Linked DNA regions of Homo sapiens: region 1 is linked to region 2. The links come from fine-mapping of genetic effects on gene expression. A gene starts in region 2. The other region holds a variant in brackets. All regions are shown on one strand. Distances are from middle to middle. Region 1 overlaps SPOPL (speckle type BTB/POZ protein like). Region 2 holds the start of SPOPL (speckle type BTB/POZ protein like).

What was found. PIP is the estimated chance that this variant, and not a neighbour inherited with it, causes the effect.
Region 1: its variant is fine-mapped to the expression of SPOPL in blood mononuclear cells (TOPMed, PIP 0.98).

The regions. Positions count from the first base shown.
Region 1 is chr2:138,533,093-138,538,477 of GRCh38, reverse strand. The region is part of intron 1 of SPOPL (speckle type BTB/POZ protein like); the gene reads right to left. Among named protein-coding and RNA genes, the nearest start is that of SPOPL, 34 kb to the right of the region's middle. The variant A/G (reference allele first, on the strand shown) is at 2,438.
Region 2 is chr2:138,498,983-138,504,367 of GRCh38, reverse strand. It overlaps SPOPL (speckle type BTB/POZ protein like), which reads right to left and starts at 2,598. Exons shown (of 11, transcript NM_001001664.3): 1 at 2,249-2,598. SPOPL-DT (SPOPL divergent transcript) reads left to right here and starts at 2,673. Exons shown (of 2, transcript NR_187149.1): 1 at 2,673-3,049; 2 at 3,488-5,385. RefSeq lists silencers at 1,913-1,962, 2,163-2,702.

The DNA of each region.
Region 1 (5,385 bases), 34 kb before region 2:
AAAATTGTTATGAGAGACAAAGGATATTATCTATTGATAAAAGGGTCAATTCATCAAGAAGGTATGACAAGTACAAACATATATACACCAAATAATAGAGCCCCAAACGATATCAAGCAAAAACTAACAGAATTAAAGAGAGAATAGACAATTCTACAATAATAGCTGGAGACAGAAATACCCAACATTCAATGATGCAGAGAACGAGGAAGATCAATAAAGAGATAGAAGACTTGAACAGCAGTATAAAATAACTAGACCTAACAGCCATTTCACTCATCAACAGTGGAACACACATTCTTCTCAAGTGCATATGGAATGTTCTCAAGGACAGACCATATGCTACCGAGGCCACAAAACAAGTCTCGACGAATTTAAAAAAATTTAAATTATACAAAGTATCCTCTCTGATTGCAGTTGAATGAAACTATAAATCAGTAACAGAAGAAAAAATTTTAAAATTCACAAATGTGGAACTACCAAAACTGACTCAAGAGGAAACCGAAAATGTGAACAGACCCCCATAACCAGCAGAGACTGAACCACTAATGAAAAAAACTTTCAGCGTGACAACTTGAGGAGTTCCATGGACATACTCCCCAGAAAATTTGGTGAAAAATATAAAAACACTGCTGGAAGCACAGAACAAATGAAGAAACATTTATTCAAGAAAATTTAGTAGAGACTATGAGAAAAGTGAGAGTCTGTGGTCTTTGAACCAGGAGCTGCTCTGTCCTAACTCAAGGAGTCAGAAACTCCACTCTAGACTGGTGTAGCCATAAGCACTGTGTTCCCTCTTCCAACAGGTCCAGTCAATGTCCTCCTGTGACAGGAAGGATGTCAACATTTCTCATCCTGCCTCTAAGGGAGAAGACCACCCTTCATATTGTCTTGTGCCCAATTTCTGCCTCCAAAGAAAAAAGAAGTAAAAACTAAAAGGCAGAAATGAAATCCACAGGCAGACAGCCCGATGCCACGCCCTGGGCCTGGTAGTTAAAAATCAACCCATGACTGAACTGCTTGTGTTATCTATAGATTCCAGACACTGTATGGAAAAGCATTGTGAAAATCCCCGTACTGTTCTGTTCCGTTCTGATTACCGGTGCATGCAGCCCCCAATCATGTATCCCCTGCTTGCTCAATCGATCATGACCCTCTCACGTGGACACCCTTAAGAGTCATAAGCCCTTAAAAGGGACAGAAATTGCTCACTCAGGGAGCTCGGTTGTTTGAGATGTAAGTCTGCCGATGCTCCCAGCCGAATAAAGTCCTTTCCTTCCTCAACTCGGTGTCTGAGGGGTTTTGTTTGTTTGTTTGGCTCATGCTGCTACACCTCTAGCTACTTAATGCTGATGTTACAGGTGAATGAAACCAAGAGGTAAGGGGCTGGCTCCCTTCTTCAAATCTGTCACTGCCGGAAAGGTGGAGGCTCTACTTTGGGCATGGTGCTGTCAGGGTACCAATCACTGCTGTCTTGGCTTGTAAACTGTGGGTTCCATACAAAGAGCGTGAAGATAAGAAGAACTGAGGCTACTGCCTCCCTCCAGCACAGCTCCTACAGTAGAGATACACTGGGAAAGAAATACCATTGTTCCTTCCTCCTTACTCCAGAGCCTGGGCTTGGAGATGTTTGCCTGTGGAAAGAAGTGGACCATAAAGCAGACTGCTTTTAATCTCTTCCCAGAGAAAAGAAGTTCATTTGCAAGGAAACAGGCAAGCATGATCTGAAAAACAGTAGAGGCTGTGAGAGGCAAATGAGAAGAGACTGGAGGAATCAATGGATACAAAGGCTAAACTACAGGACAGCTGATTTGCCCAAAAAAAAACAGGAAAAGACACAGCTGAGAGGAGCCCACCTGGATTCGGAAGAAATTTCAGGCACTGACTTAGGGAACTATTTCTTCAAAGGAAACCAAAGTTGATGAGTCTGCAGAACAACATAATGCCCCAGGGCATTGTTGAAAACAGTGCAATTAGCACTAGATTAATGGACCTTAACAGATGTGAGTAGTCAGGCAAAAAGAAAGCCCTGCCAAACCACCATCACCCAGGGTAACTGGGAATACCCAAGGCTGCTTCCCCAGAGGTGCAACATCAGAGGCTTAACACTGTGTGCGTGTGTGTGTGTGTGGGGGGGGGGCACTAAATAGACTCCACTAAAACAGTCCATAAACAAAATAAGCAAGAAGCAACAGCATGCACTGGAAGGAAGAAACCAGTTCCAAGAATTTCTCAATTTACTACATAAAATATCCAGCTTTGAATAGAAAATTACGAGGCATGAAAAAACAGAAAGTATGACCCATATGCTGGGGAAAAAAACAGATAACAGAAACTGTGATTAAACTTACATGTTGGATTTAACAGACAAAGCATTCCAAATAGCCATTAATAAGTATGTGTAAAGAACTAAAGGAAATCATAATTAGAGGAAGGT[A/G]TGATGACAATGTCACACAAAAAAAATAAAGAATGTCAACAAAAAGGTAAAGGTTATTTTTTTTAAAAGAACCAAATAAAAATTCTGGAGCTGAACCATATAACTGAAATGAAAATTCACTAGAGGAGGTCAACAGTAGATATGAACAAATAGAAGAATTAGTGAACTTACAGACAAATCAGTAGAGATTATACAATCCAGACAGAAAAATATGAAGAAAAATGAACATCTTCAGAGAACTGTAGGACATTATTTTAAGCACACTGACATGTATATAATGGGAGTATCAGAAGGAGAAGAAAGACAGAAGCAGCAGAAAAAGATAACTAAAAAAAATGGCTGAAAACTTCTCAAATTTATTGAAAAGCAATAATATACACATTTAAGGAGCTCAATCAACTCCAAGTAGGTTAAATGCAAAGAAACCCACAAACACATGGATCACAGTAAAAATGCTGAAAAAGACCAAAAAAAAAAAAAAAAAAGCTACTAGAATGGCTATTAAAAAAAAAAAAAGGAGTGGGGAATCACCTGCATTGACGAGGATGTAGAGAAACTGGAATCCTTGGACATTGCTTGTGGAGATGTATAATGGTTTAACCGCTGTGGAAAACAGTTTAAGGATTCCTCAAAAAATTAAACATAGAATTACCACATGATCCAGCTATTCTACTCCTAGGTATATATCCAAAAGAACTGGAAACAGGTGTTCAAATGACTGAAACATAAATGTTCTTTGCTGCAGTATTCACAATAGCCAAAAGGTTACTAGCTAATAATCCATTCATTGATGGACAATCCAAATGTTCATCAAGCAATAAATGAATTTTTAAAATGTGGTACATGTACACAATGAATTTTCCTTTTTTTAAACAGTGTCTTGCTCTGCCACTCAGGCTGAAATACAGTGATGCAATCACAGCTCACTGCCCACACCTGGGTAATTTTATTTCTTATAGACACAAGATCTCACTGTTGCTCAGTTTGGTCCTGAACTCCTGGGCTCAAGAGATCCTTCCAGCTCAGCCTCCCAAAGTGCTGAGATTACAGGTGTGAGCCATTAAGCCTGGTCACACAATGAAATAATATGTAGTCATAAAAATAAATAAAGTATTGATGCATGTTACAACATGAATGAATCTTGAAAACATTATGCTAAGTGAAAGAAGATAGGCACAAAAGGCCACATTGTATCATTTCACTTGTTTTAAATATTGGGCAGATCCATACATACAAAAAGCAGATTAGTAGTTGCCAGACCTGTGGGGAGGGGGAAATGGTAAGTAATTGGTTATGGAGTTTCCTCTGGGACTGATAAAAGTGTTCTGGAACTAGACAGAGGTGCTAGTTGCACAACACTGTCAATGTACTAAGCCATTACGGAACTGTACTTTTTAAAAAAGTAAAAATGATAGATTTTATGTTATATGAATTTTGCCTCATTTAAAAAAAATACCTGCACATAGAAGTCCATATGCACATATATACACATTTCTTTTGTGATTAAAAAGTAATCAAAGTTGTCCCTTTGTTTCCATGGGAGACTGATTCCAGGACTCCCATGGATACCAAAATTCACAGATGTTCCAGTCCCTTATACAAAATGGTATAATATCTGCATTTGATATACACATATCCTCTGGTATCTTTAGATCATCTCTAGATTACTTAACACCTAATACAATGTAAATGCTATGTAAATAGTTGTTATACTGTGCTGTTTTATTAGATTTTTTAAATTGTTGTATTGTTAATTTTTTTTCCCATATATTTTTGATCCACAGTTGGTTGAATCCTCAGATGCAGAATCGGTGGATACAGAGGGTCAACTCTATAAAACACCTTCTATAACTATTGAGTCTATATTAGCCACTATTAGAGAATAAAGTACTAATCGTTATTTTTAATCACCCAAAGGAAAAACTATTGTTTCTTTAAAAAATGTCTTCAATTTTGCAGTATATCAAGTGTGTTAGCTATCAAGCTTCTAGACCAATAAAATATATAAATTATCCAGCAAAGTAGGGTTAAAAAAAATCATGCTGTCTAAAGAGCATTATCAAAATTTTATCCAGTTATAAAATGAGACTGATGTTTATGAGCTACGTCTTTCATTGTCATCTGCAATCAGCTCATTCATCTTCTAGGAGGTAGCTTAATCAATTGTGGTTTAATTATACATACAGTATTTTTGTTTATTAATTCTACAATTAACAAATGGTAAATTACAATTTTGAAATACTACCATATTTATGCTAAAAGTCCTCTGAACTGCTTCAGGATGTTATAACAAAATACTGCCTGAGGTCAAAACAACTTTATATATATGATGAAAAAGAGTTAATATAATATATAACATATAATGTTCAACAGTTTTGCTAAGACTGTACCAGGGAGAATAATTAAGATTCTAATAAGTGTTTATAAAGGTGATAAAATAGTAATACACATATAAATTTCTTAAATCTATTCAAATTAAGTATACGATGACTTTAGGGAAATACAATGAACATTTATTATATGCTTAGATATATCATGCACTCTAACGAAACCTGGGGTATGAAGATAAATAAAACACATTCCCTACTCTTGGCAAAAACTATAACATAGTAGAGGATACAGACACGGAGATATTTTGAATATGATAATATGAGAGAGTACTGTAACAGTGATAATGAAGCACTTCAGGACACAGAAAATGTCCTGAAGATATTCCCTGAGCTGTATTCTATAGGAAGCAAACAAGATTATAGAAAGACCACAAACAATAGCATAGACTTTAATAACAAGAGCTATATACTGAGACCAATGTGAATCAGTGCTTTGCCATGAATTCTGTGATCTTATAGATACTGGGCCTCTCCTTTGTTTATTAAATTATTATAGCACCTCATTGCCCTATGGTTGCTGAGTGGATAATAGGAAATTTTATACATATACACACCCTT
Region 2 (5,385 bases):
TAAATGTTGGAAGGAACTATGTGGAAGCAGTGAGAGATGAAAATCAGGTAGAACCTGGATATACAGGAGAAAGAGCAAAGGTTATTCTAGGTCAGGGAACAGCATTACCAAAAACAGTGTCACCCCCAAGTATGGAACATGTTCCATGGTGGCACAAGAATGATTTTAAACTATAAATGGAAAAACATTTTTATTTTGATAGTTACATATGTACATATTTTTACATGTAATTAGGACAGCAAATAGTGATTTCAAACTTTTACTATTTAAAACAACACAAAAGTAATATCTATTCAGATCTTTTAATGTGAGTCCTTTAAAAATGTAATAAGTAAGCAACAGTGCACAAGAGGTAAGCAAATACGGCAAAAACTGTCAGCATTTTTTAAAGTGAGTAAAATTCTGTAAACACCAAGCCAAGAAGACATGTGAATATGAATGAACATAACACATTAAGAGAAAACGGCCACCAGTCTTCTGAAGGAAGACAAGCCAAAGCTCTATCTCGAGTAGTGATTGAAGATAAAGGTCAGATGAGTATGAAGAATACCACCAGTTTTGAGTATTTAACTTACAGTACTAAAACTTTTATCTGTAAAATCTCATTTTCCAGTATGATGAATCTGTTATACACAGTACTTTCACTTTGTTTATTCTCAAAACAAAGGTAAAATTGTAGAAGTTCCAAATAGACATCTGAAATAAGGACTGACCTATCTGTAGCTTGGTAGTTAGCTGCCTTGAAAATGGTGGGCTAAAACCCTGTAGTTTTCAAATCAGAAGGAATTAATTTATACAATAACAAATTATACATGCTATCTATATCAAAAAAGGTTGTTAAATGTCAAAGAATAAGAAAGTAGCTTTCCATTCCCACCTTCCTGTCTTAGAATTAATCTACCCACAAGCCAGATCAAGTCAAACCAAGAAGTGATGATAGCATTTATCAGATATTTGCCCTGTGCCAGGTACTGTTTTAAGTACTTTACTTGTATTTACTTGTGCAATTACTAGCACCATCCTGTGATGTCATATCATAACCCCATTTTACAGCTGTAAGTATACTGAGGCGAAGAAATATTAAGTAACTTCCCCAAAGCCAAAGCTGGTAGATGGCAGAGCAAGGGTTTACACCCTGGCAACTATATACTAGTCTGAGCTCTAGAGAAGAGTTCTTAACCACTAGGCAACATTTCTCACAAGAATGATGAAATGGTAATTTGAAATATTCCACCAATCTCATCGTGGCAGGAGAGATGTAATTTTTCAAGGTATGAACCTTTTACCTCTGTCAGTTTCTAGTCCAAGAAACAGTGGATTCAATTGCAAGTGGGAAAGTGAGTACCACAATGGGTCAAACTAGGCCCAAGATTATTCAAAAATAGACAAAGCATCAGAAGCCTGGAAAGAATCACTGAATGACAGAGTTCAGTCAGGAAAGAGACAAGCGAAAGTTAGGATAAGCAGATGGTGAATCTTATTTCTACTGGGTTGTGTGACTGCTTTGAGAGAGAAAATGCTACCTTCCCTTTTCTTTTATGTTGAATCAATATACAAATACATTGACTCAAAAAGAATTAGGAAAAAGGAGAGCAGCAGGAATACAAGTGGGCTCTTTGAAGACTTGGACCCCGAACCGCGCGGTTAGCTTGATGTACTCTGGTATAAGTGAGCAAAAATGTATTAGAAAGCAGGTTAAAGAGAGGTTAAAGGCATGACCACCGGACTGGAGGTAGTGAGCGGTCTGCGAAGCTGAGAACTCTGCCTAAAATGGGCTAACAGGGACGAGAGTTTCAAGTGTCTGTATTTGGGATGAGGAGGTATGAAAGTGGACGCTGCGCGGTGGCAGAGCATGCAGTTTCTGCCTTTGGGCAGCACTCAGGTAAAAAGGGGCAGGTGTGGAGGTATACAGGTATAGAGGAGGAGAGAAGCCAGAGGAAAAGAAGGGGCGAGGCCCGGGGGTAAAACTAAAGGGGATCCTGGAAGGTGGAGGCTGGGAAATCAAGGAGGGATTGGGGGCAACCCCGGGGAAAGTGGTGCCGCCGCGCGAGGGAAGGGCGGTCCGGGGGCGTGGGAGGTAGTCCCCAGAGCAGGCCGGAGCTCGCCGCCCGAGCAGGGGTCCGGGACCCAGAGAGCAGAGGGCGCAGTGAGGCGCGAGCAGGAGGCCGCCGGTCTACGGAGAGCCGGGGGAGGGGAGCAAGCGCCTGGGGCTGCCGCGGGGACTGGGGGGAGGGGAAGGGGCGCCTACCTGGACGTGCTGGGCGGCAGCGGTCAGTCCTGGTGGAGACTCCTCTCCCGCTGAGGCGGTGGCCGTGTCCGCCCTGGGAGCCCGAGGCTGCGGTGGTGGCAGCAGGGGTGATGGCGGCAAGTCCCTGTGGCGGCCGCCTCCGCCGAACCGCATCCCTCCTCCCCGACCCGCCCTCCTTCCCTATCTCCCGCTCCTAAACTTCTTCCCCGGGATAAACAAACCCGCCGCCAGGGGCGGCCACCTCCGCCACTCCCGCCCCCGCGCAGCCCCCACCCCCCCGCCGCGGGCCCGTCTGGGCTCCGGCTTCCGAGTTACGACTCCAGCCCCGGCTCCAGCCCGCGAGGGCGCGTGCGCGCGGCGGCGGCGGCGGCGGCTCCTGGGCCCTTGCTCCCTCCTACAGCGCCGGGCACTTCCGGGCGGGCCCGGATTTGCCGCCGCGCTTGGGAAGCCGCCACCGCCGCCGCTGCTGCATGGCACTAGGCTCCCGGCGGGGCAGGTTCCGCAGCCGGCACCGCTCTGGCTAGGCGCACGGAGGCGCCTTGCTTAGTCTGACCCTTATTTGGCCAGGCGTAAAACTTGTCCTGCCTAAAAGCCTACTGAGACCTCCTAACTGGTCTAATCCGCGGGAGACGCCAAAGGCGGCGGCCGTTTGTGCGCACAGGATTTTTCTTGGAGCTGTAGCAGTCTAGGAAGCCAGGGTGGAACTTTTGCTAAGCTCCCGTTGTAAGCCCAGAGCTGTAATAACTGCTGAGACACAACCAGCAGTATACAGGCTCCAGTTGGAAATCGAGAACTTTCCAGGTAGATGAAGTGCCCCATGGAGCAGTTTTCAGGTGGAGGGGATGAGGCTCAGCTGGAAGTCTCAGGCCAGAAGGAGAGGCTGCCGAGGGGCGGCCAGGGATGCCTAGGAAGTGAGCGCAGAAGACCAGGCGGCCTCCTGGGACCGCACGGTGGGAAATAAAGCTGCACCTGCACAAATGTGTGAAGAGAGGATGGGATTGCCTTGTCTCTTCGGACATTTAGTTTAAAAAGGGGGTGACAACTGAACTTTTTATTCCCCACGGCCATGGGACAAAGATACTTAATCGAGCTACCAGGAGTAAACTTCTTTAAAGAAGTTTGGGGGACCAACAATCCCGGCTTTGCCAGAACAGACATGAACGTCATTCAAGGATCCCAACTCTTTTTGCTTTAACTGTGCATACGTCAGCAATTTTTGTTTTGTTTTGTTTTTGACAGGGCTGTCACCCAGGCTGGAGTGCAGTGGTGCCATCACAGCTCACTGCAGCCTCGACCTCCTAGGCTAAAGTGATCCTCCCAACTCAGCCTCCCGTAGCTGGGACTACAGGAATGTGCCACGCCCAGGTAATCTTAATTTTTTGTGGAGACGAGGTCTTGCTATGTGGCCCAAGCAGATCTCGAACTCCTGAGCTCAAGGGATCCTCCCACCTTGGTCTCCCAAAGTGCTGGGATTTGCAGGCGTGAACCACCACACCTGGCCATAAACCAACTTCTCATTGCTTACCTGGCTTTCCAAGAAAAGAGAGAGGGCAGAGGGAAAATATTTATTATTTTGCTATGTACTGAGTATTCTAAGCATGGACTTGTATCGTCTCTGTTCTCTCAACAACCTCTCTAAAACTTCAACGTAGAAATTTCCATCTTAAAATTAAGCGACAAGAACTAGAAATGGCAAGTAATTCATCCAGAGGTTACTGGGATTTGAATACTGGACAGGCAGATCCCCCTCATTTCAAATTAATACTACATTAGCTGTCTTTTTTATTTCTTTTTTCTTTTTGTTTGTTTGAGACAGGATCTCGCTTTGTACGCCAGGCTGGAGTGCAGTGGCGCGATCCTGGGTCACCTCCCAGATTCAAGCAATTCTGTGCCTCAGCCACCAAGTATCTGGGACTACAGGCGTGAGCCCGGCTAATTTTTGTATTTTTAGTAGAAACAGAGTCTCACCATATTGCCCAGGCTGGGCTCAAACTCCTGGCCTCAAGTGATCCTCCCACTTCTGCCTCCCAAAATGCTGGGATTAGCACCTGACCTTACGTTAGCAATCCTGTTGACTTATTTAAGACAAAACGTGCTTTAAGACAAAATCTGTGCCAAAGGTTTTCAGATAAAGATAAAATTAGCAATGTAACCATAAAATTCAAAGTTGCCTTGGGCTGAGTTGGTAGAATGTTTATGCAGATCAAGGAACTCCAAAAGTTAAAAAACAGAAGTGGAAGTGAGCATTAGGGAATGGGGAAAGAGTTGGTGGAGAGAGGAAATATTTGTGTAAACATTTAACCATCTCCAAACACCAGCAAAGAACAGTTGAAACGATTTGCTATACTCACTGTCCACCCGTGTTAACTTTATGGTATGTGACATACAGCAAAAATTACATGTAATTTTTGACTAAGCCTTTTAGCTCTTTCAATCCCTTCGTAGTATGTCACCCCCTCTCTTCCCATAATTAAAAATTATAAGACACCTAGTAAATATAATACACTCATAGAATTAAGTTATAAGTCCATCAAGTACATTTCCAATTGGAAGTTAAGAGTGATGCTGACCCTTCACAGTTGACTGGGCTGAAGTTGGGAACTGATTCAATAAACTTCCACCACAAGGATGTCAAATTGCTCCTCAGGGTATTCTCAGAGAGTCTTTTCCCTAGGCTTGATCTCCTTACCCTAAGTGTTAGGACACACCATTCCTCTCTTGCTTGCAGTATTCAATGACTTTACCCACTAATAAAATGATAGTAAATAGTAAGAGTGAATATGGCTTGTAAGTAATGCTAACAAAACTGTGATGGCTTAGCAAAGTAAAAGATGGTTTTATGGTCAGTAAGTTTGGATTAAAGCTTACTAAAGCTTGATGCTTTGTTACCAGTCTGCTAAAGAACTACCTTCTTAATTTGATTTCCTACTTACTGGATACCTATTGGAAAACTAGAGAGATATGATAGGCTTTCATTTATTGCTGCCGTAAATAAATTTTTAAAATAGAGAAATAACAGCTTTGTCATTAGTGTAGAGCACAGTTTGCCTCTGCTAGGTCAGTATTGGGCTTGCTTCGTTTAAGTCATTAACCATTAGGATCACCCAACTTGTCCTGCCTAAAAGCCTACTGAAAAA